Regions from separate parts of the Homo sapiens genome. Here all the other regions are linked to region 2. The links come from fine-mapping of genetic effects on gene expression. A gene starts in region 2. Each other region holds a variant in brackets. All regions are shown on one strand. Distances are between the middles of the regions.

The links.
Region 1: its variant is fine-mapped to the expression of CPNE3 in thyroid (GTEx, PIP above 0.99).
Region 3: its variant is fine-mapped to the expression of CPNE3 in nasal epithelium (TOPMed, PIP 0.94).
Region 4: its variant is fine-mapped to the expression of CPNE3 in whole blood (INTERVAL, PIP above 0.99).

Annotation. Positions count from the first base shown.
Region 1 is chr8:86,473,825-86,481,935 of GRCh38, reverse strand. RMDN1 (regulator of microtubule dynamics 1) reads left to right here. Exons shown (of 10, transcript NM_016033.3): 6 at 1,604-1,659; 7 at 2,926-3,013; 8 at 4,612-4,642; 9 at 6,983-7,116; 10 at 7,578-8,111. The coding sequence ends at 7,628. It also overlaps the pseudogene NTAN1P2. Among named protein-coding and RNA genes, the nearest start is that of RMDN1, 31 kb to the left of the region's middle. The variant T/G (reference allele first, on the strand shown) is at 3,986.
Region 2 is chr8:86,510,426-86,518,536 of GRCh38, reverse strand. CPNE3 (copine 3) reads right to left here and starts at 4,102. Exons shown (of 17, transcript NM_003909.5): 1 at 3,996-4,102; 2 at 3,038-3,075. It also overlaps a transcript of RMDN1 not described here. RefSeq lists silencers at 3,594-3,933, 4,054-4,133.
Region 3 is chr8:86,550,956-86,559,066 of GRCh38, reverse strand. CPNE3 (copine 3) reads right to left here. Exons shown (of 17, transcript NM_003909.5): 13 at 7,967-8,021; 14 at 7,833-7,884; 15 at 4,083-4,216; 16 at 2,729-2,965; 17 at 1-779. The coding sequence ends at 657. Among named protein-coding and RNA genes, the nearest start is that of CPNE3, 41 kb to the right of the region's middle. The variant C/T (reference allele first, on the strand shown) is at 3,161.
Region 4 is chr8:86,561,008-86,569,118 of GRCh38, reverse strand. CPNE3 (copine 3) reads right to left here. Exons shown (of 17, transcript NM_003909.5): 17 at 7,621-8,111. Among named protein-coding and RNA genes, the nearest start is that of CPNE3, 51 kb to the right of the region's middle. The variant G/A (reference allele first, on the strand shown) is at 3,216.

The sequences.
Region 1 (8,111 bases), 37 kb after region 2:
AGAATCTTTCCACTTCGTGTCTGGCCGAGCCACCCCACTTTGTTGAACATATTAGATCTACCTTGATGTTTTTAAAAAAAAATACTGCTCCAACTAACACACTGTTTCCTGGAAATAAAGCCCTACTCTACAAAAAAAATGAAGATGGCTTGTGGGAAAAGATCTCTTCTCCAGGAAGCTAAAAAAATAGGAATTACCAAAGAAAGCAGAACCTTCTTGGCCTGACAGAGACCATTGGTGGGGCCAGCAAGAATCCAAATTTGGAACCTACATCCATTGGGTCTTAGGTCTTCTCCTTCCTTCCTCAGTGTTTTTCAAATGACTTTCAAAATAAAACCTTATTTTGGCAAAGGCAAAAAAAAAAAAAAAAAAAAAGGAAAATTAATTAAACCCTGATCCCCCCAGGCATCCATTGTGATGAATTAACTTCCTTCCTATGCATCTAGAATGGGACTACAGTATTTCTGTATCATTCTTAGGAAATAGAAAAAAATAGTTACTTACACAATTTTTTTGTAGGGCTTAATTTTTAGTGGAACTCCCAATTGAGAAAGGTTGCTTAGAGCATAAGTTGCATATAAACATGTTAAGATACTTATTTATTTTTTACCACAACCTTATGAGTTAAGTACATGACTTTTCCATAAAAGAGAAAAAACTCAGTTGTGGTAAGAATATAGATCTTGCAACCAGTTCAAGGTCATTAAGCTGTGACTTGAATCCTGGCAGTCTGGTTTCAGAGACCATGCTCTTAACCATTACAAATATTTGAAAATGTGTACCTCACACATTACTAAACTGAAAGCAAAAGTGTGGGTTTATAGAAAAGCATAAACTAGGAAATCTTAATTTTTTCAAAAAGAGTCCTTTTAATATGAACATTAATCTGTAAGATTTCTTTAGTTGTTTTCAACAAAATAATGGATAAAAGGAGGAACAGTTTCTTTATTCTGTAGTTTATATTCACATAGTAAATATAAATTAGGGAGATTCAACATATTTTACATTGCACATAATTATTCTATTAATATTCTATAAACTGTTTATTTTTCCTTTGGTAAGTACAGATGGGGAAGTTGAACAAAATCTGCATACAAGAAGACTTTCTAAAAATAGAAAAGACTTTCTAAAATCTGCATAGAAGAGACTTTCTAAAATTACATTTTTTCTAAAAAACTAAAATGCACTTTTCTTCTTTAGGAAAGAATGACTTTTATTCAGTATTCATCTACAGTTTGCCAAGAAAGTACTTCCTTATCCATTTTTCCTTTAATTTGGAAGAAACATTAAGAGCTATAGATTAATTTGCAAGATTAATTTGCAAAATTAATCCATTTATGTATTTCATGTTTTTTCTCATCTTGATAGACACTTACTATAAATGTCTGAACCATACAAAATAGTAACATTAGTATAAGTCATTAATAGTGTTTTGAAATGAATTTAATCAAAGAATCAGGAGGAAGAAAGTTGATATTATAATGGGAGAACTGAAACACACAGTTGCATTTTTTAAAAAATCATGGCTTCTTCAGCAAACACAGTAAAGCACTTATTGGTGTTTAGAAAACAAATATGATTTATTTTTCTCATTTCTTGTTAGAAAGCAATTGAACTGAACCCTAAAGATGCTACTTCAATTCACCTTATGGGTATTTGGTAAGAAAATTTCTTTAAATATTTCAGTAGTATTTAGTGTGATATTTTGTAGTATGTATAAATATCTTCTTTTGCATATATAAAAGATATTAAATATTTTAAAATATTATCTGACAGAGCTTAGAGTGCTAAATCCATTAACTAGCCCTTGTATATATATTGTTAGAACATACTAAATTTGATTATGACCATGTTAAACATTGTTATTCAGGTCATTTAGAAACATGTACAGACTGAAAAGACTATTCTTATTTACCATGCTAAATGAAATTAGATTAATGTAACTATAGTAAAACAGTAGAATGCCCCAAGAGGGTCTTTGTATCTTCAAAGTGTGTCAGATACAGTCTTGATTAATCTGAGGAACCATATAATCTGATTTTCAGTATCTTTCTATTTTTATGTGATCTTATGTCCACTGTAGATTATTATTTTGCTGGTATGAGGCTTTATCAAAGTGTTACGTACTTGATGGTTTAAGAGTCTGTTTTGAGATAGATGGGACACTCTTTTGAGTATAGCCTGCAGAGCTGAATATTTACTGCCATCTAAGAAGGGTACCAGTGTAAACTGTCCTGTATCAAACTCTTTTAAAAGAGAAATATATTCTTCAGGATAAAGGACATATTAAGCTAACACTCATTCACTGAGGATTAATGATAATTGAGGGGCAGTCACTAAGTCAGATGCTAGTAAGCAAACCCAAATGAAATAGCAATTTCTGCCTTAAGGACTTCAGACCCTAGTCAAAGATGCAACACTTTCTTTCCTACTTATTTCTGAAAGTTGTAAAGATCTTTGGAGGTTAATCATTTGCTTTGCTGCTTTAAAAATAGATTTAAGTTGTTGGTTGCTGTTATTTATACATTTGATGTTTAGCTTTGTCATTTTTCTTGTGTAAGGTTTAACTTCTCTGAGTTTTTCTTATAAGAAAAATAGGGGAAATTATCCTATCTCATATATAATTGTTACAAGGAATAAATGAGAGAATCAACCCACTACCTGGCACAATGCACTCAGTGGTAGATGTATATTATATTACTGTTATTAGTATGACTGCTTACTATTTATATTTAATCACAAAATACACCCCCCAGCTAAAGGATCACTATGTCAATCTCTGGATTACCTAGTAGATATCATGTAAAGCACAAGTTGTTTAAACATACAGTAGAAGATTCCTTTTATAGTATTAAGATGCTTAGTTAACTTTAAGAGAAAAGAAGGTACAATTTGAATGTATAAAATTGTTTTATTTCCCTGTAGGTGCTATACATTTGCCGAAATGCCTTGGTATCAAAGAAGAATTGCTAAAATGCTGTTTGCAACTCCTCCTAGTTCCACCTATGAGAAGGTAGTATGATGTCCTTTGTTAAGTTAGTACGGATTTCTTAACCACAGCGCCATTCTACCATGTGTTCACACATGTGGAGCTCTGATTCAGTGAGGGACTTGAGCAATTTCTAATGATCCAATTCAACTGTGTTATCACAAGGCTTAACACTTATTATCCTTGACTGGTGAGTGGTTTTCTTTTTCCCCGTTAGGTGAGTGGCTGGTAATTCTGGAATACTGTCATCTAAAATGGCTCGTGGCTAAAATCTACCTTCATTTTCTGTTTGAAATCTAAACTATATTGAAGTCATAAAATAGAACAAGAAATACAGCATCTGTTACCCAGCATGTTTTAGCTGTATTACACACAATAACAGAAAAGTAAAGCAGATGCTTAAGTTGATAAAAGAAGAACACTCATTATAACTTCTATTTTAAAAAGCATATGAAAGGTTCATATTCTCTCATATTTTCAAGGCCTTTTGCTTTTCTTGTTAAAAATAAGATTTGAGAGGAATTTCTGGTTAAACTTTGGGTTTACTCATCACAAGCTTTTCAGAGTAAGAAAACAGGCAATCGAAAAAGCTGTACTTGTATTATTTACATTATAACAAGGAGCTTTTTTTTCTTTCTGGGAAGCTATAGTGTAGAAATTGATGTAAAAAATACTTAGTTGTATTCTTTACACACAGTTGAGAAATATTATTAAAATAATGCACCAATATTTTATAATGGTATTATTAAAATAATGCCCATTTGCTGGACACGGTGGCTCATGCCTGTAATGCCAGCATTTTGGAAGGCCAAGGTTGGTGGATCAGTTGAGCCTGGGAGTTTGAGACCAGCCTGGGCAACGTGGCAAAACCTCTGCAAAAAAAATACAAAAATTAGCCAGGTGTGGTGGCCTGTGCCTGTAGTCCCAGTCACTCAGCTAAGCTGAGGGAGAAGGATCACTTGAGCCTGGGAGGTCAAGGCTGCAATAAACAGTGAT[T/G]GCGCTACAGCATTCCAGCCTGGGCAACAGAGTGAGACCTGGTTCTTTTTTTTTTTTTTTAAGACAGGTCATTTTAAGGACAAAAAATATAGTCAGCTCTACTTTATCAAATTAGTTATGTTTCTAGAAATCAAATGTCATTAGAGAATGCATTACAAAAACAGTAGCTTAAGTAGGACAAAAAGAGTTTCAGACTTAACATTGTATGTAGGAATTTCAATAATAATGGACTCTTAAAAATTCACTAGTACAACGAATAAATTCAGCTTTTGATTATATTTTGTTTTTACTAAAAATCACTAGTTATGATTTAAGAGAACTGTCAAAATAGCTGAGTTACACGTGATAATGTTCTTTCCTTTCTGCACATGATGTTAGTTTGGTACAAGTTCTAAACAGCAACCAAGTTATTACCAGAAGTAGTCCATATATTGTAATCTTGATGATTGAAGTGTTACGTTCACTTTGGGTGTTAACTCTCACTGTTGAAGAAGTGACCATTATTTTAAGATGATTTACTTCCTGACTTAAATATAATATAGCAGTAGATCTTTGAGACAATGCTTTTTTAATATTGTCTTCTTTAATCTTTTTTATTATGTTTGGGCTCTTTGTGTTTTTGACAGGCCTTAGGCTACTTTCACAGGGCAGAACAAGGTAAGGTATTTTTGATTACACATATTAATATAGTTAAAATTGTATGAATGCTGAATATATACTATAATAGCAATGTCTAAAGCAGTTGTTTATTCTGTTATACTTATTTTTGTGCTAGATACTGTAAAACAATTTTTAAAGTCTTTATTCAGTAAAGATCACCTGAATGAGAAATAGGCTGCTATTGAACTTAGAGCTGCAGTTCTGGAATGTCTATCATTTGATGTAATTCTGCTTCCTTTGTGAGAGCAGTCTCTGACATGGTAATTGTCTTATTCAAGACTGCACATATTGGCCAGATGTGGTGGCTAACACTTGTAATCCCAGCACTTTGGAAGGCCAAGGCAGAAGGATCACTTGAACCCAGGAGTTTGAGACCAGCCTGGGCAACATAGCGAGACCTCATCTCTACCAAAAAATAAAAATAAAAATTAGCCAGGTGTGGTAGCACACACCTGTAGTCCCAGCTACTCAGGAGGCTGAGGCAGGAAGGTCACTTGAGCCCAGGAGTTCCAGGCTACAATGAGCTGTGATTGCACCACTGCACTACAGCCTGGGCCACAGAGTGAGACTTGTCTGAAAAAAACAAAAAAAGATTATGCATCTCATTAGAGGCATTTAAATGGGAATTCTGCTATTCAGCCAGGCTAGTTCTATTGCAGATATTGTGAAAAAGAGTTTCGGGTTATGTTTGTTTTGAAAAAATGACTAGTCCTATGAAACTGCCACCAGCCCATCCTAAATTTATCCTTTTTAATATTCATACACCAAGTGGGGGAGATAAGAGACATAAGCATATGATACCAAATAGACCATAAAAACCATTGAAATATATTCTATAAAACTTAATCAGGAGAAGACATACCATGTTTATTAAATTTGAGATCCCACACATAATGGACTTGTTCATTTCATGATAACAGTTATCTTCTACAGAATTTTATCTGAATGTTTTATCTCTGTAATTCATCAATTCTGATTTATTCATTATTACCTTCACTGATACCCTCTCTTGATCATACTGTTTCACATATCATGAATATGAATCTAGGGATGACTTTTTTTAACAGATTTAAAAGTTAATTACAAAGTAAAAATATAGGACCTTAGAGACTTAAGGGTTGGGGGTGTTGAGAAAAACATGGTCCTACCCTCATGGAGCTAAAATAATCCCTGGTAACTTCAGTCATTCTTGAGTGACCTTACCTTATTTCTTTCTGGCCTATATTCAGTTCAGAGGCTCCTCTGATGCCCTTAGTATCTTTTATTTTTCCAGTGATACTTATCACTCAATACTATGAACATTTACATGTGTAAGACTGTACATTCTGAGAAGATGTGGACTTTGTCTTTTCTGGCTCACAATTGCACACTCATTACTTGGCACAATGCTTGGCAAATCTGTTGAATGACTGAGTAAATAGATGAATGATCGGATGATTGAATATACGAATATATTTAACCCCAGGACAACTTAAGTATATCAACATGGCATCACACAAATCTGCTCAAATAAAAGAAGTAAAACAATTTTGGTTAAGGAGCAAATGGAGTTAATCATTAATTGTATACAGGAAAAAGTATGCTTTGAATACAGAGGATCTCAGATTGTTAGGGGGACACTTTGTGAAGAATTAAGTTGGTGAGATAATTCCATGTTTTCATTCATAGGCTTTCTGTTTATGCTTTTCTTTCAGCCAAGAATGTTCTCCACTTTTTTTTTTGGTTTCTTGTAGCAGTTCAAAGTTTGTATATCTAGTAAAGCATTCCTTTCATTTTTATATTACATTTAGTTGTGTTCATGTTTCTCTCTTCATTATAAAGTTGAAAAAAACAGAGGTTTTGTTTCATCCTCTATGTTTAAGTATAGCTGACATCCAGTAAATGTTGATCAAATATATATATGTCATCATCATTTCATTCACTTATTCAGCCGATGTACACTGAATGTATGTTATGTTTCACACACTGTTGTAGGCACGTGGGGTACCATAGGGAACTAAAGAGATTAAAAAGAGTATTGCTGTCCTCAAATAGCATACATTCTATCGGGAGCTTCAGCTTCTCATCTATAAAATGGAGATACCTACTTACAAAGTTGTGAAAATGAGAAATGTGTATAATGCAGTGCCTAGCACATTTGTAGATGTTTATTCATTGGTAATTATTATTTTACAAATATTTGTTTGAGATATAAACAGTTGAACAAAAGAGAATTCCCATTAGTCTAATCACTTATTGACCACACAAATTTATTGAAATTTAGACCTCAGAAACAAACCTTTAAAAATAAAAGCAACACTGTTTCCTCTGAGATCATTTTTTCTTTCTTATGTGCAGTGGATCCAAACTTCTACAGCAAAAACTTACTTCTTTTAGGAAAGACATACTTGAAACTACACAACAAAAAGCTTGCTGCTTTCTGGCTAATGAAAGCCAAGGACTATCCAGCACACACAGAGGAGGATAAACAGGTAAAACATCTCCCATAAAGTAAGGCAGAAAGGTTTTGAGGCACTATTAAATGGTGAATTAAGAACTTCTTTAAAAGCATAATTTTCTAAATGCATAATATTGTTGAAAACAAGTGTGTTCATTTCAAGTGTAAATTGATTGACATTTATATTTCTATATAGGAAATAATTTAGTTACTATCACCAGGTGGATGTTACGGGTTGCCTGCTACAATGCAGAATTATTCCTGTTTGACACACATGGCAGATCGAGTTAACATTTCTAAAACATAAAAGTCATGGGATGTGTACTAAAGTGGAAGAGCTGAGAGTCTCATCTGGTCACTGTCAAGACATTTTATTGTTATAATGTCCTATCTGGTTTTTGGAAACTCTTAGAAACCCCACTTTATAAACTTAAATTTCACAAGTTAGTCTCTTAGCTCTCCTGTTTACTTATAACATGTATTTTTCCATTTTAGATACAGACAGAAGCTGCTCAGTTGCTTACAAGTTTCAGTGAGAAGAATTGAGAACTTTTCAGAGAAGATTTATGAAATAGCTAATAAACATTGCCTTTTCTTTTAATTCTAAACTTAATATATGAACTATAACTGTTCTACGGCTTTTTAAATGTTGTGACCATTTAACCGTGTAAATATAAAATATTCTAGGCTTCTTCACAAATAATAGGGTAAAATAAATAATCGCCATAAGAGTGGTAGAAATAAATCTCCATGGCTCAGGCAAAGAGATTATTTTGCATCCTGGATACCAGCAATGCAAAATGGTATGAGATTTCTAAGGATTGATCACATTGGGATGGGAGATCAAGCAAAGAAATATTTGTAGAGGAGGGGAAATGGATCTATAGGGGATATACAGGGGGATGGATTTTCAAATTGGATTGATTCTAAGTTGAAATCTTGAAGAGAAGGTGTGGTGACAGTGGTTAGGATGTTGTGGGTTCCTGACATAAAGTAGTTAAATGATATATCTTGGAGCTAACCTGTGTA
Region 2 (8,111 bases):
GTCTACAAAGTGAATCACCGTTTACCCTCAATGAAAATCAGTGCTGCATCCCCTAGCTGAAAATCCCAAGTGTTCAGTTGAAAAGTTTTCCATTATAAGGACTAAGTAAAGCTGCTGGCCAGCTGTGCAGCAGGCAGGCTGGATCTGATATTAAGGTACACCAACCTGTGAAGACTGAAGTCTCCTGGGGTTCTCATTCCCCTCAGACCACATTAAGAATTTCCCCCCTTCTGGAATTTCCCAGATGTTGAACCAGCCACCAGAACCTCTCACCTGCCCTGGTGTCCACCATGCCCCGACTCTAAATGCATGCTTTCCAAAATTTGACTCCTTTCCTTTTCTTTGTAGGGGAGCATGTATATTTAATTGGGCAAGATGGGCACTTCACAATTCATCACCGTGTGCTCCTTTCTAGTTCACGGTGAACAAATAATCTAAAAATGCCTTCAGTTTAAAGCAGCAACAACCACAACCATGTGGTTCTCAAGGTTTAAAAAGTTTGTATATTGGGCAAAGGCTGTTGAGATGTTTATACATTTCCTGATTTCAAGAATATTCATGTCCTGGTTGCTTAACACATCGTTTCAGCTGTTTTTAATTAGGGCAAATCCCTTTATATTTCCCAATCATGAGCAGTTTAATAGTACTATTAATTCATTCAACACTTATTGAACAAATATTATAGATTGCCTACTGTGTGTCAGGCACTGTTCTAAGGTGCTGGAGAGCCAACAATAAACAAAGCAGGCCACCATCCCCATCAGGGAGAGGTTAGTTACACTGCAGGAAGGCAGACAACAATGAAGACAAATAAGTAACATATATAGTATATTAGGTGGCAGTAAGTGCTACAGGGAACAATAAAGAAGGAGAACAAGAAGTACTGAAGGTGGGGTGCAATTTTACATATTTTATAAAATTGTTTTGACAATACCATCAGGAAGTATTTGTCTTAATTTTCACTTCTTTTTAAAAAATTCTGACACATAAACATGAAAATGTGGACAGATAAGTAAGTTCCTCTTTACAGTTGCAGGTACCTCTTTTAACAGGTACTGACCGTCACCTTGAAGTCTAAAGGCGTGGTAAACTAAAAGCCAGGGAAGGTGAAATAGCCGGATAACAATGTGTCCAGAAAACCACACAGTTGCTCTGGTAATTTTCACAGGAACTAGATATAATACAACCATTTGCAAGAGACATTTCAAAATGATTTACTAAAATGAGTATGTAGTATTTCCTTCTTTTTTTTTATGAGGAAACTTACTAATATGCTATCCACCTAATTCATATTGGTAAATGTGACCATAATACTGATGAATTTTAATGTCTTTTAAAAAGTTATGATTGCATACTGCTAAGCTGTTATATTAAAAGAATAAATAGTCTCTCCAAAAAAAACCCCAATACGATTCCCACTCACAAGCAAGAACAAGAAGGGAAAATATTGGTGGGAAGGAAGCTAGATTGTAGGCTGAAGGTAATGGTGGGTACAGTAAAGGAATGCTCTAGTTAGGACTCCTGCAGGTCACTGAGTACCACCAATGGAAGTGACATTGAGTCTTGCTAAAAGATCCACCTGAAATATCATGCTTTGGTGAGCAGTGGTGGCATTATGAATCTTTGAAGGTCAAATGACATATAATCATTTTTCACATCTAACATTAACTTTTATAGTTTTGCTAACAGGCATACTTTCTAGCATAATAAATCACTGACTAAAGAACATTTGAAAGGGAGGAAAAAAGAGAAAACTCTAACAATAGTAAGAAAAAAAGCCCAGTGATAGTACCAAAAAATAAAGAAGGCAAAGGAAACAATGGATAAGCCATACCAAGAATTGATAGGGCCGGGTGTGGTGGCTCACACCTGTAACCCCAGCACTTTGGGAGGCCAAGGCAGGAGGATCACTTGAGCCCAGGAGTTCAAGACCAGCCTGGGCAACATAGTAAGATCTCATCTTTATTATAAAATAAATAAATAAGTAAATAAAAGAATTGATAGGTGTTGGAGTACAATATGAACTAGGTACCGAAACAGATGCTGCAAGGGAAATACCCAGGGCAGCAGTGATACCATCATAAAGAGCATAGAAAATAAAATATTTTAAAATGTATAATAGGTTGCCATAAACTTATATGAAAATGAAGACCATTGTCTATAAAGTGTTCACAGTTATAGGTAAAATTAGAAGAGGTGTCCAGTCATTATGCAACCCTTAATGGCAAACACTCCTTCTGTTTCTCCCGTCCTGGAGCCTCCTCTCCCTTCCTATTCTTCAGGGACTAGACCTGAAAGAAGAAATCCTGAAAGAGAACTGCAGACTTCATTGTGGGGTTTGTGCCAGGCACCTTTTGGTCTGTGGGGTCCTAAAATTCAGCTCCACCTCACATCTAGAGTCTCAAAATGATCCAGTCCCAGAGTTTGAAATTTTTCAGCCCAGAGTGGGATGTATTTTTCCAATTCATCAGCCAAAAGGAACTGACCTATTAATAATTCTCGCAAAGGCAAAAAGTGGCCCTGGGTACCACAGATCAATGACTGAGACATCTATTGTTGTCACTATAATTGCCATTATATATGTCATCTGTTTTCAGTTCCCTTTTCGTTTCCCATCCTTTGCTGTTTCCCTCTACCTATGTTCTAGGCTTGCACAAGTTCTGTTTGGCTCTGGCTGGCAGCACACACAGAGAGCTAGTTTGCTGACCCTTATTAATGACATCAGGATATATGTGGCTATATATAGCTTACCACTAACTACGTGTCAAGCACTTTGCTAAATGTTTTACAAGTAGGATCTAATTTAATTCTCATAGCAACCTTGTGACATTTTATCTCTATTTCACAAATGCAGAAACAGGCCCTAAAAGGTGAAGTATCCTGCCCAAGGTCATACAGCTAACAGCCCTCATAGCATAGATTTGAAACCTAGGTATCTGGCTTATCCCAAAGAATAATGTTCTTTTACATTAAGCAATAAAGCCTGTGCCCTAAAACCATACGGACTTGAATTCCAAACCCTAATGCCACCACTTACCAGTTGTGTAATTTGATGAATTATTCAACCTGAGTTTCCTGGAGAATGAAACAGAGTAACATCACTTTAATAAGTGCTTGGGAGCGTTAAATAACCTAACATATAAAAACTGTCTAGCACAGTTGTTGTGGGACATTGAAATCAAGTCACAATATTCAATCCCGCCCTTCCCTCTATTTGATTATCCATTATAGAGGTGGCCTCACAAAGACAACACTAAGGATATGCAAAAAGTGCAGATGATCATTAAGTGCAACATAAATGGTTGATCTGCTCGGTCCCAACGGGTTCTGGCCGTGCGCTTCCTCCACAATCCTGGTGTAGGGAACCCAAAACACTAGACAGAAGAATCTTGAAGCTGGAGGAGAAACGGGAGCTGCTAGACTACTTCTCACAATCTCCTTGTTTACCCTGAAATCAAGAGTCACCTCTTCCCACTCCATCTGCCAGCTTCTCGGGTGCTCTGAAGCGCGCGCCCCCCGCTCAACTGGGCATTGGCTTCACCACGGACGTGGTGTGGGTACCCTATCCCTCTCCCCGCGTGGTGCTGCAGCGATTTCGGGACCTGTCACCCTTCTCTGGGCCACAAGCCCGACCCTCTCCGCCCAGGGAAGGAGGGCGGATCCCAGCCTATCCCCAGCCCCAGGTGCGCGAGCGCCAGGCCCAGGCGGGGCCTTGCGGCCCGGAGCTGAGCCCCGAGCCCGGGCTCCTCCAGGAGGCGTCGGCGGTGCCTGGGTCCAGCCAGGCCGCGACCTAGCTCGGGAGCCTCCCCGCGACCTGCCGATCCCCAGCTGCGCGAAGCCCACGGAGCACTTCCAGCAGCAGGGCCCGGCGGGACCTGCCGCACGGAGCCTGCGGGCTCGGATCCTCCAGGCCAGGACTTTCCTTTTCCCCCGGGCGGTACGGTTGCTGGGCTGCTGCCTCACCGGCCCAGGAACTGGGAGACGCCCGCACTCACGTGGGAGTCTTAGAGGTGGAAGTCGAGCGACGGTGGAGAACAGGTTGGCAGCGTCCGGAGCGACGCTGGGACCGCAGGGATTCAGGAGAACCTAGGGCTGGACTGGCAGAGCAAGGGGGCGGGGAGGGGGCGGGGATGGGGCGGGTCCAGTGCGCGCCCGCCCCGCACAGCCTGCGCGAGGATCAGCCCATCCGCAGGGAGCTGACTCCGGGCTGCATGTCAGCTCCTTGCCAGTAGGCTGGCGCTTCGAGGCCATTCTGGAGGCCAGTCGCTTACTGAAAAGGCAAAACTGACTTTAAGGTAAGTGGTTTGGTGCACCAAAATAAATTCCTTAAGGATTAAATAATTTAAATATTTGAGAAAATTTATGCCATATCTGAACTGAGAAGACTGGGCGCAGTGGCTCACACCTGTAATCCAAACATTTTGGGAGGCAGAGGTGGGAGGATGGCTTGTGCCCAGGAGTTGGAGACCAGCCCCAGCCTGGGGCAAAAAAATGAGACCCCCTCCACCGCTACAAAAAGTAAAAAAAAAAATAGCTGGGCGTGGTGGCACGCGACTGTGGTCCTAGCTACACAGGAGGCTGAGGCAGAAGGATCACGGGCTCAGGCTGCAGTGCGCCATGTTCGTGCCTCTGCACTCCAGCCTGGGTGACAAACAGACCCTGTCTTAAAAAAAAAAAAAAAAGTTACCAAGACAAATTATCAACATGAAAATAGCGAAATACATCTTAGCTGTTAACCATGCTTATATGCTTATTTAGGGCATTCTTAATGTGCACACTACCAAGGACATTTTATATCCTTCATTACCTTTAATCCTCATGATTCTGTGATGTATTTGGTGCCAGTATACCCATTTTACAAATGAAAACTGCAATTGAGTAACATGAGATTTGGAAGCTAAATAATTGGCCTACTTTTCTGAAGTCACACAAATTGTAAGTAAACTAACCTCAAAGTGCAGGCTGGACTGCTTGCTACTCCATGCTGCCTGCAGCTAAACAAAACACTATGGAAAATATTGATACATGACTGCTCGATAATTTAGAACTTCTTCCCAAGGAAACAGGGACAAAATCAATAAAACACATTGGGAAAAATATTGGTCCCAAACCTGACAGAGTTAGTATCTTAAGTTCATTTATTTTTTATTTTTATTTTTTTGAGACGCAGTTTCGCTCTTGTTGCCCAAGCTGGAGTGCAATGGCGCGATCTCAGCTCACCACAACCTCCGCCTCCCGGGTTCAAGCGATTCTCCTGCCTCAGCCTCCTGAGTAGCTTGGGATTACAGGCATGTGCCACCATGCCCAGCTAATTTTGTATTTTTAGTAGAGCCAGGGCTTCTCCATGTTGGTCAGGCTAGTCTTGAACTCCCGACCTCAGATGATCCACCCACCTTGGCTTCCCAAAGTGCTGAGATTACAGGTGTGAGCCACCGTGCCTGGCCTCTTAAGTTCATTTAAATTGATAAGAAAAAAAAAAACACCCAATAGAAAAATGGGTGAAGGTTTTTTTTAATTACAGAAGAAATGGAAAGGGTATCAAATGAAGAAACACAGACATTCTTAAGTAAAAACTTTACTCTTAATCCAAGAAATGCAAACTAAACATTTTTATTTTATTTATTTTTAAGAAATGGGGTCTCACTATGTTGCTCAGGCTGGTGTTGAACTCCTGGGTTCAAGTGATCTGCCAGCCTTGGCCTCCCAGAGTGCTGGGATTACAGGTGTGAGCCACCGTGCCTGGCCTGCAAATTAAACATTTTTAAAATCGTATCAGTGCCAGTGAGGATTCATTCATTTATTCAACAAACACTATGTGCATTGCTCTAGACTTGTGAGCAAGACAGACAGGAACTTCTATCCTAGAGGACGGTTGAATCTTAAGTTAGTTGTTAAAGACAAATGAGATTTCAGCCAGCCAGAAGTGCCATGAGAAAAGTTAAGGCAGGGTGATGTGATAGAGGGACTTGAGGATAGTGTGAGCTTATTTAGACTGGGGATCTGAAAAGAGCTCTCTAAGATGGTATTTGATCTGAGATTTGAAAAATAAGCAGCAGCCAGTTATGCAAATATCTGGGGCACAGGAATGGTAGCAGGGGCAAAGATAAGAACAAACTGCCAGTGCAGAAACAAGGCCTTTGTTGCTGAAGTGTACTGGGGAGGTACTACAAGTGTTTTAGTTTTTACTAAAGGTTTCTGGCTCTATTTTTGATTCTACTTTCACATGTAAATGAAGGTTCTTAGGCACCACTAATTGGATTGCAAGTTTCAAATTTTCCAGAATATATAGTATCCATACCTAACCTTCAAAACTTTTCTTTACACTAAAATAGGGAAAGAGTAGAGGCAAGGGGATGGTTTTGTACTTTTAGTATCCAAACAGCAATCTATCATCTAAATACATAGTGCCATAGCTATTCAATGTATTTATTCATTTTCCTTAACTACAGTCTAAATCCCATTCTACTTTTGTTCTCATTCATTCACCCATTAATTTAACATGTGTTGAATTCATGTTAGATACCAAGCCTAACAAGGTTCTAGAAATAAAACACCACCTGGTGGAGAGTTAAATGCATGTTAAAATGAAAGATATTCACAAAATATTCTTTCTCCTATGTATTTTGATCCTCATATTTCTACCTTCACTCTTTCAGTCACATTTTTAATTACCTCATCCTGTCTTATAGCTTTTTTTTTTCTTTTTCTTTTTTTTTTTTTGAGAGACAGGTTCTTGCTGTCACCCAGCCAGGCTGGGATGCAGTGGTGCGAATACGATTCACCACAGCTTCAACCTCTCAGGCTTTAGCCTGAGGCGATCCTCCCACCTCAGCCAGTAGCTGGGACCTACAGGCACGAGCCACCGTGTCTGGCTAATTTTTGTACTTTTTGTAGAGATGCGGTTTCACCATGTTGCCCAGGCTGGTGTCAAACTCCTGAGCTCAAGAAATCCACTGGCCTTGGCCTCTCAAAGTGCTGGGATTACAGGCATGAGGCACCACGCCCAGCCTTAGTCTCAGAGCTTTGAATTCCATCTATATTTTCTCTCTCTTTTTTTTTTCTTTGAGACGGAGTCTAGCTCTGTCACCAGGCTGGAGTGCAGTGGTGCGATCTCGGCTCACTGCAAGCTCCACTTCCTGGGTTCACGCCATTCTCCTGACTCAGCCTCCTGAGTAGCTGGGACTACAGGCACCCGCCACCACACCCGGCTAATTTTTTGTATTTTTAGTAGAGACGGGGTTTCACTGTGTTAGCCAGGATGGTCTTGATCTCCTGACCTCGTGATCTGCCCGCTTTGGCCTCCCAAAGTGCTGGGATTACAGGCGTGAGCCACCGTGCCCGAACTTCTTTAATTTTCTTTTCTTTTTTTTTTAAAGACGGTGTCTCACTCTGTTGCCTGGACTGGAGTGCAGTGGTGTGATCACCGCTCCCTGCAACCTTGGACACTTGGGCTCAAATGATCCTCCCAGCTCATCCTCCTGAGTAGCTGGGACTACAGCATGCACCACTACATGCAGCAAATTAAAAAACAAAAACAAAAACAAAAAACAAACAACAACAAGAAAAACATGTTTTTGTAGAGACAGAGTCTCACTGTGTTGCCCAGGCTGGTCTCAAACATCCTGGGCTCAAGCTGTTCTCCCGATTTGGCCTCCCAAAATATTGGGATTACAGGTGTGAGCCACTACGCCCAGCCTATATTCTTAAGGTTATCAAACTTCCACACCTTTCCTCTGAAACTCCACACTCCAACTCTCTATGCTTTACTTGGCTGTTATATTAGTTATCAGTTGCTGTGTAACAGATTACATCAAATTTAGTGGCTTAAAACAGGAACAATCATTTATTATCTGTCATAGCTTCTGTGGTTTAGGAATTTAGAAGTGGCTTAGCTGGGTGCTTCTGGCTCATCATCTCTCTTGATGTTGCAGTCAGATATTGGCCAAGGCTGCAATCATCTGATGGCCTGACGGGCTGAAGGAGTTCTTCAGCCCAAAAGTTCAATTGTGCCAAGGCTGAGAAACCCTGCTTTAAACCGATGGGACTATACATTTAAAAAATACTAATGTCGTGAAAGACCAAGGCTGACGATTTAAAGATTTAAAGAAAGT
Region 3 (8,111 bases), 41 kb before region 2:
TTATTTTTACTTGTTGATTGTACATTTAAAAAACTGAGTATGTGCCTTTTCCTGCTCATTCAGTACTTTTCATAAAGTCCCAAGTTGAGTGCATGCTGTTTTGTAAACCACAGTGTCTAAACTGTAGCAAAAATCAGATGCATAGACAGGTTATTTTTACCTTGCAGAAAAGCACTGTATACAGAGTTACAGGAACAAATTTGATATCATATAATTTAAGAAGCTCTCATAATCAGGTATGGACATTGGCTTATACAACATACACTGTGAATCAGGCACAGCAACCTGCAAACCACATCATCCCAACAGTTTTCCATTCTTCCTATTGACAAACACTTAAACACAGCATTTTCATCATATGAAAGTAAACAAAAACAACAACAGAATAAGCTTTCCCCACACTAATTTCTAATCCAAAGAGCTTTACTGCAATTAATGTAAATTGCTATCAATCACTGAATTGACTGGGCAAAGATGGACTTGGCACTGTCCCCCCAAAATAACCTAGAAAGAATGCTTTAAACAGATATAATCCATAGAGAAAGAGATTTACATCATAAATGCTGGGGGTAAAAAGTACGTAGAATGACAGATACACGATTTGGGGTGAGAGATGGCATTGCTCCACATAACACAAAAGAATTCTGTTGAAGTGGTCACTGCTTCTGTTGTTTCGTGGCTGGGTTCTTGGGAGGAAGGAGTTTGTATGTATTGAAGTAGCCCACCACCTGCTGGGGAATCTCTGCCAAGACACACTGAGCAAGTGCTTCTTTTGGAGCCTTGTGAAAAACAAAATAAAAGTGACTTTATTAGCAACTGAATTTTCCTGGCTTTTTCATAAAAGACTAGGGATACTTCAGCAGCCACTAAAATGAAGCAATTCTAATTCATAGGCCTGTACCTTTTCTTAGGAACCGCCCATGAAATATGGAATGAGTTAACTAGCCAATGTTACTTATGATTGCTATTACTATCCCTGCTAACATTTGTCAAGTCCTTTTTCGGTGCCAGCATTCTAACATTTGATGATTTTGTTGTTGTTGTTTTATAACTTTTAAATGTGGTTCTTTCACTTACTTGGTATTAATTTTTTTTTACTTTTTTTTACAACATTTATAGATTCATAGGAAGTTGCAAAAACAGTAAAGAAAGGTACCATGCACCCTTCACCCAGATTCCTCCAAAGGTAACATCTTGCATAACTATAGTACAGTATCAAAACCAAAACCAGGCAGCTGACACTGATACAGTTCACAGAACTTACTCTGATTTCTAGTTTTACATTACTCATTTGTGTGTGTGTGTGTGTGTATGTGTGTGTGTTTGTTTCTGTATAATTCGATGCAATTTTGTCATCTGGATAGATCTGTTTAACCACCACCACAATTGAGATACAGAACTGCCTCAACACCACAAAGATCCCTACCTAACATTACTACTTTATAATCACAACACTCCACTTCCTCCCCTTCCATTGCTGGTGGGAATGTTAAATGATATAGCCACTTTAGAAGAGTTTAACAACTGCTTTAAGAATTAAACATGCAACTACCGTATAACCCAGCAACTGTAGTCCTAGGTATTTATCCCAGAGGAATAAAAACTTATGTTTGCTCAAAAATCCATGAATAGGCTGGGTGCGGTGGCACACGGCTGTAATCCCAGCACTTAGGGAGGCCGAGGCGAGTGGATCACTTGAGGCCAGGAGTTTGAGACCAGCCTGGCCAACGTGGTAAAACCCTGTCTCTACTAAAAAATAGAAAAAAATTGCCAGGCATAGTGGTGCACACCTGTAATCCCAGCTATTCGGGAGGCTGAGGCATGAGAATCACTTGAACCCAGGAGGCGGAAGTTGCAGTACTGTACTCCAGCCTGGGTGACAGAGCAAGACTCTGTCTCAAAACAAAAACAAAACAAACAAACAACAACAACAACAAAAACCCATGCGTAAATGTTTATAGTAGCCTTATGTATCAGAGAGAAAAACAGGCAACAGCCAGCTGTCCTTCTGTGGGGTAACGGTTACACAAATGGTGGTGCATCCATACCATGGAATATGACTCAGCAATAAAAAGAAGTACTTGCAAAAACTTGGTGATTCTCGAGAGTGATGCTGAGTGGAAAAAAAGCCAATCCCAAAAGGTTGTATATTGTACGATTCCATTTATATGATATTCTTGAAATGATAAGATTATAGAAATGAAGACTATATTAGTAAGTGGTTTCCAAGGTTAAGGAAGGGCTAGAAGTAGAAAGAAGGGGATGTGGTTATAAAAGGGCAACCAGGGGGATCCTTATGATGCATCTTGATTATACCACTGTAAGTATCCTGGTTGTGATTCTGTACTATAGCTCTGCAATATGTTACTACTGGAGTAAACTGGGTAAAATAGTCTTCTAAGAGATATTCATCAAACTAAACTTCCAGCTTGAGGGGGATTTGGCATACAGTTACATAAGAGTTTTTTCCTGTTGTTACAAAGGTAAAGATAAAATACTTGAGAGAGTCACAATACTATTTTAAAACAATTTATCATATAGCCTGCAAGAAGCACATAATGAACATCCTGAAGCAACACTGCTAAACCAAATCGGAGCTCTCAAATGGACAAAGGAAAGTGTTCACACATCCTCTAACCCTGCACACCTAATCAACTGCCTGGTTGTAGATGGGCAAAGGTCTGTGTTCAGTCACTTTAGTGTTTGAGTAGGGAGGAGTGGTACTCACATTCTGGAACTGTCTGAAAGGCACAAACTGGACAATATCTCTGATGGCCACTTCGCCCAATGGGGAGCGGAGACTTCCACCATCACCATCCAGAAACTCCATGGCGCTGAAGTCAGCACCTCCAACTCCAACAATTATGATGGACATAGGCAGCCTGGAGGCATTAACTATAGCTTGTCTGGTTTCATCAAGGTCTGTGATCACACCATCAGTAATAATCAAAAGCACAAAATATTGCTGCCAGAAAAAGAAAACATGTCCCCTGAGCAAGTCAAGCAATGGCTAATGGCATCTCTGGCTTGATGAGTCATCCAGTCTTTCTTGTTCATTTTCCTTGCCAGTCTCTACCCTAGCTACCACCACATAAAATATTCTAAGCTTCTCTGATGACAAGGAAATTGACTCTTACAAAAACTGCAGGTTCATTAAAAG[C/T]GCAGCAGACCACAAAATAGGGTTGGCAAAATATATGGAAGCAGGACATCTAAATGTCAAAGATTAACCTTTCAGTAAGGCTAGGAATAAACAGTTTTAACTCAAGTATTAAATATGTCAAAGTATCTATCAAGGAGGCAAGTGGAAACTTCATTCTCAGAAGATCAAATAAATACAAAAATTATTAGAATTAGAATATTAGAATACAAAAATTTTAGAAGCTAAAATACACACAAAAAAATAGATATGGTTTAAGTGATGAAATCATCCCCCAGATTGTGTCACCTAAGATAAACCTTTTCAGAGAGCAGTAAAATGTTACATCAAGTAGTGACTCCATCTTTTGGGCCATTTAAGTCTAGAATAGGAATAAGATTTACAATATTAGTTAACATATGTTGAGTGTTTACTCTGACCCAGGCATTGTGTACTTTATATGAATTATCTAACCTTTTCAACAACAGTATGAGGTAGTTTCCCCTAACTTACTTCTGAATATGCTGAGGCTAAGAGAAATTTGGTATCCACGGTCCAATAGGTAATGGTTACCTCATTCAAATATCTTTAGTACAATAAGAAATCTTGCAACAGCATCTGATGTGGTAACTTTCCTTAAGCTTAATTTGTTATGTCTACTTCAAAAAGGTAGATGATAGGCATTTTTTTTTTTTTGGTAGAACCTATCTAAGAAAGTTAATTCCAAGGATAAAAGACTCATGAATGCCAAGTGTTGTTTTGCTGTTGTCTTATTTTTAACGATCACTAGTATAACAACAACAAAAGTTACTCCCAAACCAAGAATGACTGTGTTATTGTATCTTGCCCTGACTTTGTATTATGACAAACCAAAAACATAGAAAAATGGCACCAGGAGCTGCTACCAATCCACATTCTTCCCATTCCCTGGCCATAGAGCACTTACAGAAGCTGTCTGCTGTTGCGTGGCTGCAGCAGCAAACCTGGCCACGTGATTTATGATTGGAGAAAAATTAGTTGGTCCATAGAGTTTTATCTGAGGAAGACAAGACCGATACGCCTCTACAATGCCTTGGATTCCTAGAACAAACAAACAAATAAAAAACAGTACTAAAAATTCTCAAGCACAATGTGTTTATTCACAATACTGGCTAATTTGATTATATGTATCAACATATAGTGCTTTAAATAGTCAAAAGTTCTATAAGCAGTAGTTCCTCTAAGCTATGTATTACATAACTCCATAGGTATGATCCATTGCAAAAACCTATAAGCTCTGTCCTCCCCCAATAGAAGGGATTTACTTTCATCTCAGTCAAATTACTTATTAGTCTACGGTAGGACTGTTACATCTGTGCTTAATTTTTAATACATGTTGGGAATGTGGCTCTGATAGAAAACCATGAAAAAGGTTTCACATCATACAACTGATGATGAAAGGTAAGAAAGAGTTATTAATAAAATGAAAAATCATTTGCATATATGGCCAGAGGTTCTACAAAAATACCAGATGGCGATAAACCTAATATTAATTCTAGTTAATTAACTGATACAAGTGTTTATTCAATAAGTTAAAGGTTAATCATTGTATCACAGACTGCATTAGTTCCAAATATTCACTTCCAGGTTACTTATCCATTTTGCTGCAGAAGCACTGATGTGTTTGTTTAGGGGTACTACCCCTAGACCTGCTGGTGCATTTTATAATAGAAAGTTGGACAGGACCATTTGATTAGCTTTGACCAATGCATGTGACACCCATACCTAAGGAGATGTCTTAAGAACTACTGCCTGTTTTTTCCAGCTCTCTTGCTCCTTTCCTCTGCCGTAGGAGCAGCACATCCCAGATAAGGCTGTTCCTTCAGCCTGAGTCCCAATATAAGAAACATGGAGAGAACTCCAGCCTAGCTGCATGTAAAATGAGCAAGAAATAAACTGTTGTCATTAAAGCCACTGAGATTTAGAGATTGTTTATTACAACAGCACAACCCAGTGAAAGCTGACTGACATTGCTGGTCAAAGCACTGCTGATGAAACTTGTATCCCACACAAGCACCTGTTGAATCTGCCCTTAATATCACAGCATTTAGGATGCAGACAGGATAACAGAAATTCTAAAGAATTTCCAACAATACTTGCTGAGATCATCACAGATACTTGCCACAAAAAAAAAAAAAAAAACTTAATGTAAATCAAAACAGGTCTCTTGCTTTTAAAATGTCTAAGAGAACACAGATCAACAAAAAGGAGAAGCATATACAGTCATGTGTCACTTACCAATGGGGATAAATTCTGAGAAATGCATCGTTAGGTGATTTCATCATCGTATGAACATCATAGAGTATACTTACACAAACCTAGATGGTATAGCCTATTACTCCTAGGTTAAAAACCTGTACTGCATATTGCTATGCTGAATAATGTAGGCAATTATAGCAACTGTACCTTTTCTATGTCTTTACAGTAAAAATAAAATATTAAAATCTTATGGGCCTACTGTCATACATGTGGTCTGTCCTTGACTAAAATGTCATTTTTAGTGCATGACCATACTTGGCTTGAAAGCTTCAGGAAACCAACTCTCTTCTCTTAAAATGTAAGAGTTCCAATAAACTCCTCTTAGTTTCTTTGAATTTAGGAACAGGTAGTCTTATGAACAACCTTTGAGAACATAACTAATTCATAGGCAGGGGTGATTTTACATGCAGAAGGTCCATGTTACTAGTAGTCAGTCCAGTAGTAACAAAGGTATAAATAATTCATTTAGGGCTGGGCACGGTGGCTCATGCCTATAATCTCAGCACTTCGGGAGGCAGAGGCAGGTAGATCACAAGAGGTCAGCAGTTCTAGACCAGCCTGGCCAACATGGTGAAACCCTGTCTTTACTAAAAATACAAAAATTAGCCGAGCGTGGTGGCAGGCGCCTGTAATCCCAGCTACTCGGTTGTGGGCGGGGGGGGGGGGGGGGCGGGCTGTGGCAGGAGAATTGCTTGAACCCGGGAGGAGGAGGTTGCAGTGAGCCAAGATCGTGCCATTGCACTCCAGCCTGGGGGAAAAGAGCAAGACTTCGTCTCGAAAAAAAAAAAAAAAAAATTAATAATAATAATAATTTCTTCACAAATATCAAGAGCTTTCAATTCCTTAATTAAAACTGAATTATGCCAAAACCCTTTCTATGCATCAAAGTAACAAGTTATTTCTAAGGCATATTATTTCTAAGGCAACTAGATTCAATGATTAGTTAGGAAAAGGGGATTAAACTTCCTTGCCTTAAAATAAGGCTCTGAGCTTTTTGCTGTATAGTATCTCCTTTGTTTAAAACCAAACTGATGCTTTTTCCAGAGTGTAAACCACTTGGTGAACAGCCCAAGGATGGGCTTACATTACTCACAGAGTGACTGAACTTCTAAAATGAATTATCATATGATATGTCATCCATATTCATTTACAATAAATGAAAGCTAATTACAACAAATTCTAAAGATTATCCACTTTCATTATAAAAATGAAGCATATTTCTTAAAAAGAATAACATTCCCAGTTTCAAATGGCTAGGGAATAAAAGAGGTCACAACCAGTCACTGAAAGTGCCTCAAAGAACACTGAATTAGTATGGAAAAAGTGTTCTGGGGAAAAGAACAAAACCATATTGCAAACGGCCGCCACAAAAATTGTTCATGCTCTTCCACCTTATGAATATTGTTTAGGAAGAAAAGGAAAAAACATTTTCTTCTGTTAGAAAGCTATACATTTGTAATTGTCAAAAGGACCCTTTGCAGAAAATTAGAGTATTGTCTAGAATTTTAAATTATGCCTCTGCTCCCACACCTACCTTGCCTTCTCCAAACTCTTTAGTCTGATATATAATTTAGTGGAAGAGCTGGCATTTCTGGCTGATTGCTCAATGTGGTAAAAAAAAGAAGCAGCACTTGGATACTTGAGGTATAAGGAAAAAAGTAAAACGTGGCTGGGCATGGTGGCTCACGCCTCTAATCCCAGTACTTTGGGAGGCCAAGGCAGAAGGCAGGAAGATAGCTTGAGGTCAAGAGTTCAAGACCAGCCTGGCCAACATAGCGAGACCTTGTCTCTATTTTTTTAAATAAATAAAAGAAAAAAGTGAAATGAAAGACAAATATTTGCCTCCTGCTCTCTACACAGAGGAAAGCTGCTATAGAAGATCAATTCTTTGTTCCTTTTGCCCATCCCAGCTACTTATAGAATACTGTGTGAGCAACAAGTATTAGATGCTGGATACTTTTCTCTTCGTAGAGAGTGACTACCACTCTGAAAAAAGCTTCAAAAGATCTGTATATCAAATTACTCATTTTATTGAAGGTTTGTTTTTAAATAAATTTATATGTAAAAATACTTTTAATATATGATATTTTTACTGATCTACTCCAAAGATTGAGAATGTTTTTGTCCTATTAAAGTTCTTAAGGTAGGAGGATTTAGCTTACCACCTTCATCATCATAATACTGATTTGCCCCGTAATTACCATTACCACCCTAACCACCAACCTGGTGCAATTCTTCTACCTTATACAACAGAAAGTTAAATATGTAAGAAAATGAAACCTAGAGATGAAATTTGAGTAGTTTTAATCACAAGAAAAAAAACAAAGAACAAAGAACAAAATAACAAAGACTAGTGAGCCTTTCCATTTGAAGTCTTCATGTTTATTTTTTAACTTACCATTGCAGTAGGGATTGGATGGGTTGAAGTTCATTGGAAATTCATGTGATACCTGTCAAAGATGGACAAAGGACTGATGAGGGCTGGGCTGCTTTTCTAGGAGGCAAAGCTTTAAAATAGAGATTTCCTCTTACCTGCCACTGAGGAGGTATCTGAGCGCCAAAACCAAAAGCTGGAAACATCTTATCACTAAAAAGAAAAAAATATTTAATAAAATACTGTTTTTTCCAAAATAAAAAGCTTTATCTTTGCCCACAATAAAATCCATATGAGCTCATT
Region 4 (8,111 bases), 51 kb before region 2:
AAGACTTATTATATATGAAAGTTCTTCCCAGACCAGGTCTTTCCTCACTGCCCAGGTCTGACCTCGACAATTAATCACCAGAAATACAGTGCAGCATGGGCTGGTTAAAAGAGATGTATCATGATAAGATCTGCAGAGAAAGAAGGAAGAAGCCACTCAGCAGAGGTTCTATATTTTAAATCTTAAATAGTTAAAGAAGGAAAACAATATCTCTATAAGAAGTAATTTTTTCACCCTGTGGGCACAAGTGTTTATTTCAACAAGCAATTTCCTCTGATTCACTGAAGCCATTCCAAGTGTTATTTGCTCAAAATTGATTATAATATCACCTTCTATTTCACTTTTATCTGTGGCCTCCAAAACTCAGCACAACCTATAAGCTGTCCTCTGGTCTTAAAAATGCCCAGCTCTATTTTGCATTGTCAAACTACATTAATTTGCTTTTGCTAACTAAAATGTAGTAAGTTAAAATAATCATTTATTAGCTCCTGAATCATTTATTGGTTTCTATAGATTGCCAATTTGAGCTCGTTCTTCTGGTCTTAGCTGGGCTAATTCATGCTCTATAGTCAGCTGCCGGATTGACTGGGGGCTGGCTGGTGTAGAACAGTCTCAGGACAGTCTCAGATGGGACAGCTTTTTTCTAACCACATGGTCTGTCATCCTGAAAATGGGTACACTGGGTGTGGAGACTGCACAAGGTTCTGAGAGGAGACAAAGCAGAAGTGAGCCAGGCTCTTGAGGCATAGGCTCAGAATTCACACATCATTATGTCTACACATTCTATTAGCCAAAGTAAGTCACAAAACCAGCCTAGATTAAAGGGGTAGAGAAATGAAATCCACTTCTTAATGGGGGGACAGCAAAGTCACATTGCAAAAGGAGTGGATCCAGAGGCAGCGGAAGGATTCTGGCCATTTTTCAATCTATCAAACAGAATTGTCACATAAAACACAGGACACTCAGTTAATGAATCCTTTTTTTTTTTTTTTTTTTTTTTTTTGAGATGGAGTCTCACTGTTGCTCAAGGCTGGAGTGCGGTGGCACGATCTCAGCTCACTGCAACCTCCACCTCCCGGGTTCAAGCGATTCTCCTGTCTCAGCCCCCCGAGTAGCTGGGATTACAGGCGTGTGCCATCACGCCTGGCTACTTTTTGTATTTTTAGTAGAAACGGGGTTTCACCATGTTGGCCAGGCTGGTCTCAAAGTCCTGACCTCAGGTGATCTGCTCACCTCAGCCTCCCAAAGTGCTGAGATTACAGGCGTGAGCCACCATGACCAGCCTGAATAATTTTTTAGTATAGATATGCTCCATGCCATAATTGGGACTTGCCTATATGAAAAAATATTCATTTTTGTCCAAAATTCAAATTTAACTTGACATCTTGTATTTTTGTTTGCTAAATCTGCCAACCCCACACAAGGACCACGTCAAAAATAAGCAAAACCTTTCTTTAAACAAGAGAGAACTTGGAACTAGAAATGACTTTTAAATTGCACAATTTCATCCAGGTGCAGTGGCTCACGCCTGTAATCTCAGCACTTTGGGAATTTGAGACCAGCCTGCCCAACATGGTGAAACCCCGTCTCTACTAAAAAAACAAAGAAACAAAAAGATTGGCTGGGCGTGGTAACATGTACCTGTAATCCCAGCTACTTGGAAGGATGAGACACAAGAAAAAAGAATCACTTGAACCCGGGAGGCAGAGGTTGCAGTAAGCTGAGATCGTGCCACTGCACTCCAGCCTGGGTGACAGAGCGAGACTCTGTCTCAAAAAAAAAAATTAAAACGCCAGGTCCGGTGGCTCACACCTGTAATCCCAGCACTTTGGGAGGCTGAGGGGGGTGGATCACTTGAGGTCAGGAGTTCCAAACCAGGCTGACCAACATAGCGAAACCCCTGTCTCTACTAAAACACAAAAAATTAGCCAGGCATGATGGTGCATGCCTGTAGTCCCAGCTACTCGGGAGGCTGAGGCAGGAGAATCGCTTGAACTTGGGAGGCAGAGGTTGCAGTGAGCTGACATCGCGCCACTGTACTCCAGCCTGGCGACAGAGCAAGACTCCATCTCAAAAATAAATAAATAAATAAATAAATAAATAAATAAATAAATAAATAAAATTAGCTGGGTATGGTGGCGGGTGCCTATAATCCCAGCTACTTGGGAGGCTGAGGCAGGAGAATTACTTGAACCAGGAGGCAGAGGTTGCAGTGAGCCAAGATCATGCCACTGCAATCCAGCCTGGGCAACACAGTGAGACTCTGTCTATAAACAAAGAAGGACTTAAAAAAAGAAAAATAAAATGAATTGCACAACTTCACCAATTGTAGTATTAGAATGGGCCGAAAGCTCTAAGTATACTCAAAGGAAAGGAGTAACTTGGTCCCCTCTTAACATAATATATAATAAGCTTATCGAACCTGCAGCCTGCAGGTCGTATGCAGCCCAGACAACTTTGAATGCAGCCCAACACAAATTTGTAAGCTTTCTTAAAACATTATGAGTTTTTTTGTAAATTTTTTTTTTTGGCTTATCAGCTACCATTAGTGTTAGTTTATTTTATGTGTGGCCTAAGACAATTCTTCCAATGTCACCCAGGGAAGCCAAAAGATTGAACACCCTTGATATATAAAAATCTATTTTATTTCAGTTGTATTAGATGAAAAATTGCTACACAGAAAACCAATAAGAGAAGAATCTGTACTTTTAGTAATTTGGACCTGTTCTATATTTACAATAATGCCTTTACCCACCTACGGGAATTTTTTAAATCTTTAGAAGGTGTTAATTAATCATTATGCTGTTCTGGAATTTATTATAACTAATCAGACCAAAGATACTTGAAACTGATATTTTAAGTACCATACCCACACGCTGTAGTAAAATTTGATGTTTTTCTCTATGGGTTTTTATGACTGACTGTATTTTTCCTACTATAACTTTTGTGACTAGAAGTGACGGTGCAAAGGTCAAATAAATGTGCATCATTAAGCAATGCAACCTGACATTTCTAGATAATAACTCCCTCGGATGAGGAAAGGGAGTGATACCTGAAAGGTCACAGCCCCCTTACTGTCCGTTTGCACCTCTAGTCATCTCTGCCCAATGCACACAATGATTCTGCCACAAATTTATGAGAATCCTCTCTGCTGGGAATCCTAAGCAATACAGAATTCAGCATATAGTGTATGCTAAGGGTTATTAACTGGGCTC[G/A]TGATACAGCTTCTTGCATCCAGCTTTGAATAAATCAAGCTCTGTTGTTTACACCAGAATCTTAGACTTGCAAGGGAATTTAACGATTCCTACCCCAAGTCCCATTTTACAAAACATTCGTGTTTTGTAATAAGACCCTTTGTCCAGGGCTACGCCAGAGTAAAGCAGAGTTCAAGGTCAAAAGATAACACATGCTTTTCAAACATGAAGCCCATGGAAAGGCTTGATAAAAGTAGCATCCACCTAAAGCAGGCCTTTTTCAAATAAACAAGTACATTTGCCAAGATTTTATGGGGTCAAATGATGATCAAGTCTGCCATGTTAGGACCATATTTATATTCCAAATCTGAGAGGAAAAATTCAGATTTAGCATGTCCTTCAGAAAAGGACTAACCACAGATTTCATTAAAATAGAAATATGTGTGGTCGGGCATGGTGGCTTATGCCTGTAATCCCAGCACTTTAGAAGGCTAAGGCAGGCAGATCACTTGAGGCCAGGAGTTTGAGACCCTGTCTCTATAAAAAATAAAGAAATAAAATATGTGGAAGATCAATATTGTTTGAATTTCAATATCACATTTGTAAAAGTGAATAAAGAGATTTAGTTATGAAACAAAACGGTTCATTCATACATTCATCTCCCTATACTAACAATGTTTCTCAACCCACGCTTTCTTAATCCATGCCACTGACAATGCCAATTTCTTTGCTGAAAGGCTCTTCCGCTTTCTCTACATTATAAAGCCCCATAAAACCTTTAAATCCCAGATGAAATGTCAAACCATCCATGAAGCTCTCCAAGATCTTCCCACTGCCCTGACGACTCTCCACATTGAATAGAAAATCTTCCCATTCTAAGCTTCAATATTTTCTCATATAAACTAACTTCTATCTTTATATATTCTCTAGTATATACTTCATTCATTCATTCTTTCAGTGTTTATTTAGGGAATGCCTTCTAAATGCCAAGGTATCTTCTAGGCTCTGAGGAGAAAGCAGTGAACAAACAGGCAAAAATCCCAGATTTCTTGGAACTGACATTCTAGTGGGTGAGGGAGGACAAGAAAAAAAAACAAAACAACATCAACAACAAAAAAACAACTTCCCAGGCTCCAGCAATCCTCCTACCTCACAGCCTCCTGCGTAGCTGGAACCAAAAGTGTGCTCTACCACACCCAGCTAATTTTTGTATTGAGACAGCTGATTTGGTTTGGCTGTGTCCCCATCTTGAATTGTAGTTCCCATAATCCCCACATGTCATGGGAGGGACCCAGATGGGAGGTAATTGAATCATGGGGGTGGTTACCTCCATGCTGTTCTGGTGATAGTGAGTCAGTTCTCATGAGATCTGATGATTTAGTAAGGGGCTTTTCCCCAACTTTGCTCTGCACTTCTCCGTGCTGCCACCAGGTGAAGAAGGATGTGTTTGCTTCCTCTTCCGCCATGATTGTAAGTTTCCTGAAACCTCCCCAGCTATGCTGAACTGTGAGTCAATTACACCTCTTTCCTTTATAAATTACCCAGTCTTGGGTATGCCTTTACTAGCAGCATGAGAACGGAGTAATACAATGGGTTTTCACCATGTTGCCCAGGCTGGTCTCAAACTCCTGAGCTTAACCAATCCACCCAACTTAGCCTCCCAAAGTGCCATGATTACAGGCGTAGGCCACTGCACCTGGCCAAAATAAATATAAACAGAGAAGAAAAATAAAAAGTACTAGGGAAAGAGGTACACTTTTAAATAAGGTGATCAGAAAAGGCCTCACTGAGTGATGCTTAAATAAAGACCTGAAGGAGGTGAGGGAGCAAGGTTCCCAAGTGGCTAGGGGAGGCTGGGTTTTCAAGAAGGGGCAACGGCAAGTGCAAAAGCCCTGAGCCAGGAATATGCCAGGCATATTCAAGTAAGAGCAAGAAAGCCCATGTGGTTGGAGTGAATGACAATGCAGAGATTAGTAGAAAAGAAGTTTAGAAAAGGAAAGAGCAGGAGGGGCCAGACCATCGAGACACTGAGAAGTTGGTAGGATTTGTGATTGAAGGCATGGAGGGAGACTTGTTAGAGTTGTGGTACTAAAGGGAGTGAACTGCAAAAGTGGTTGTTATTGAAAAACTGAATACTTGAAAATGCGATCAGGGAGGGTTTTTTTTAAATCAATAACGATAAGGTCTAGCATATGACCTTCAGAATGTGGGCTGAGGTTGAATAGAGAGCAGTATTATTATAAGGAGGGATAGAGAGTGATCTAATCTAATGATGCAAGATTCAAAGCCAGAGGTTTTAAAGAGGAGGGAAAAGCTCTCTGAAAGCAGAAGGGAGGATCAAGGAGGGTACCTACGCAGCCTCCAAGCCCAGGGGTAGATCAGGAAGAGGAAATTACCATCACTTGAGAGGGCAGCAGAGGAAGCAATGTTCTTCAAGAGAGGCAGGTTTTAATTAGAATTAAAAGGTGAAGGGACTATTCAGAAAAAAACATTGATATCAGAAATTTCTGCTAATGAACGACCCAGTTCTTGAGGGCAGAGTGGAAGGGTATGGGGCACTGGAGAGAAGTGGGATATGGAGTCAGAATACAGGGGTTGGAAACTAATGGTCTGGGCTTCTTGTGAGGACTGGCATGAACAGTGATCACAGGATGGTAGTGGAGAGCAATGAATGATAGCAGGATGGGCAGGAGAAGCATCTTTCCAGAAGCAGCATTCAAGGGACCCTCTTTCCTCATCACCATGGATGCCTGAAGGCACAAGAAGGGCCAGTCTTACTCCAACACAGCAGAGTCCCTCACCTTGCTCACTCTTGTTCTGTTTAACATATATACTGTCTCCTTTTCCATATTAGATCATAAGCTTTGAAGTCAGCAAGAATTTTTTTACTCTGTTTGAATTCCCCTGTTGATTGCCAGTAATAGACTACCCAATAAATATTTGTTCAAAGAAAAATTGAATACTTCTTACTGAAAGGAAGGGATGGTTGAAAAAAGCAAATTATTTCCTACTCAGACTTTTCTCTGAGAACTCCTTAAAGCTCCCCATCCTTGAAATTCTTCTGATTCCAGTCCTAGAAGACCAGGTGCTGCTATAAAACTTGGTGCTTTGTGAGCACCAATAAATGCTTTGTAAGCATCTGCTGATGAAAGACCAGAGATAGCTCTCCTTTCCCAAGCAGTAAGAAGTCACAATTCTGCTTATAATAATACTTTCCATCATTTTGGAGGAAGGAATCAACAGCCAAGCCAAAGTGTAATTCTGTATGGACATTTCAAACTACTGTGGTTTTTCTGGAGAATCTGGCCAAATGTAGTGATGATCAGGAAGTGATGTTATTTGGTGACAAGTGACAAGGGTGATGGTCTTGCTACATGCAAGGGTTTGGCATTCCTGAAGACATATTATCACCAGGTCTGAACCAGCCTCTGCACCATTAAGGAACCAACAAGATACGGGTCTACCAGACAATTTGATAGTGAGGCAGGAAAAGCTCAGAATTTGGAAACAGACCTAGAATCAGACACTTAGAAAGTATGTGACCAAACAGCTGAGTGTCTGCCAGAAGGTGACCACTATCAGCTCTGCCATCTGGCCTTCACCAAGGCAAAGCCATTGCGACTAGACCCACATTTGGTCACAGGGTTCCATGTGGAACTCTGTGGGCTTCTGAACTCATCTGTCTGCCCTAAAAAGTATGGTCCTCTGGTTTTTCAAATGCACAAATATAATCACATCATTCATTTGCTTAAATCAATTTAGTGGCATCCCATTACCCTAAGCCTCAGTCTGAACTCCCTTACCTGCCCCAAAAGGCCCTCAGGATGTAAACACCACCAACCACTCCACCTCATTTCTTTTACCACTTTCCCTCTTATACTTTATATTTCAGCAAACTCAAACTTCTGTCCACTCCTAGAACATTCAACTCTATACTTGCTGTTGGCCTGACAGCTTCATAAGTGCTTTTAACCTTCTTCACCTAGCTAACTTTCAGGTCTTAGCTTACATGGCACATCCTCAGGGAAGTGCTCCTTGCCTCTCAGATGGGTTAGGTCTCTCTCTACTGTATGTTGTTTCACGCACAGATCTCACATCTCTATAATTACTTGCTCAATGTTTTCTCTCCCCCACTAGACCATTATTTCTACAAAGGCAGCAATCGTGGCTGTCTTGGTTACCACTGGCAAAGTCCTGCCCAATGCCCATGACAAAAGCAATTAAAACATTTTTTTTAAAATTAGGTGGTTACACTATCCTTCTTAACATGATTGATAATCTCAGGCCATTCTAGCTATAAGCTAAGAATCTTTCCTTTACTGTACCCAGAAGAGTATCTTGGACCCACTCAATATCTTTTAAACAAATAAATCCCATAAAATAATATCCCCCAAATTGTTTAATTCAGTAAAATATGAAGTCAAAGGCCACCTAAAACACTATATTTTATTTTTAACTTTTCTATTGTTTTGGTCACATGTAAAGAATAAAAATGAAAACACACTACTCTGTCACATCAAGAAATAACTTTATCCAAAAGGAATTCAAATGTAAGATATATTTAGCATCAATTCATATATTAGTAACTTACACATGTATTGTCAAGTATGACATCCATAAAAGCACAAAACAGTTTCTAACACGTTCCATCAAACTTCTGGCGTACTTTATGTGTCATTTCCATGACTACTAACCACATATATAGAGACTAGGGGATACTTAGTGAAGACAGCTTTCCAGGAAGTTTACAAAATTGAAGAAAAAAAAAGTATGTCCAAATATGGCATAAGTAGCAATGGGGCCCTGAATTTACTTTGGAAAGATTGCCTAAGGCACCACTATAATGAACAGTTGTAAATCTCTGATCAGACTTCAAATTTTTCTGGTCTTAAAATTGCAATTCTAACCACAAGGTTA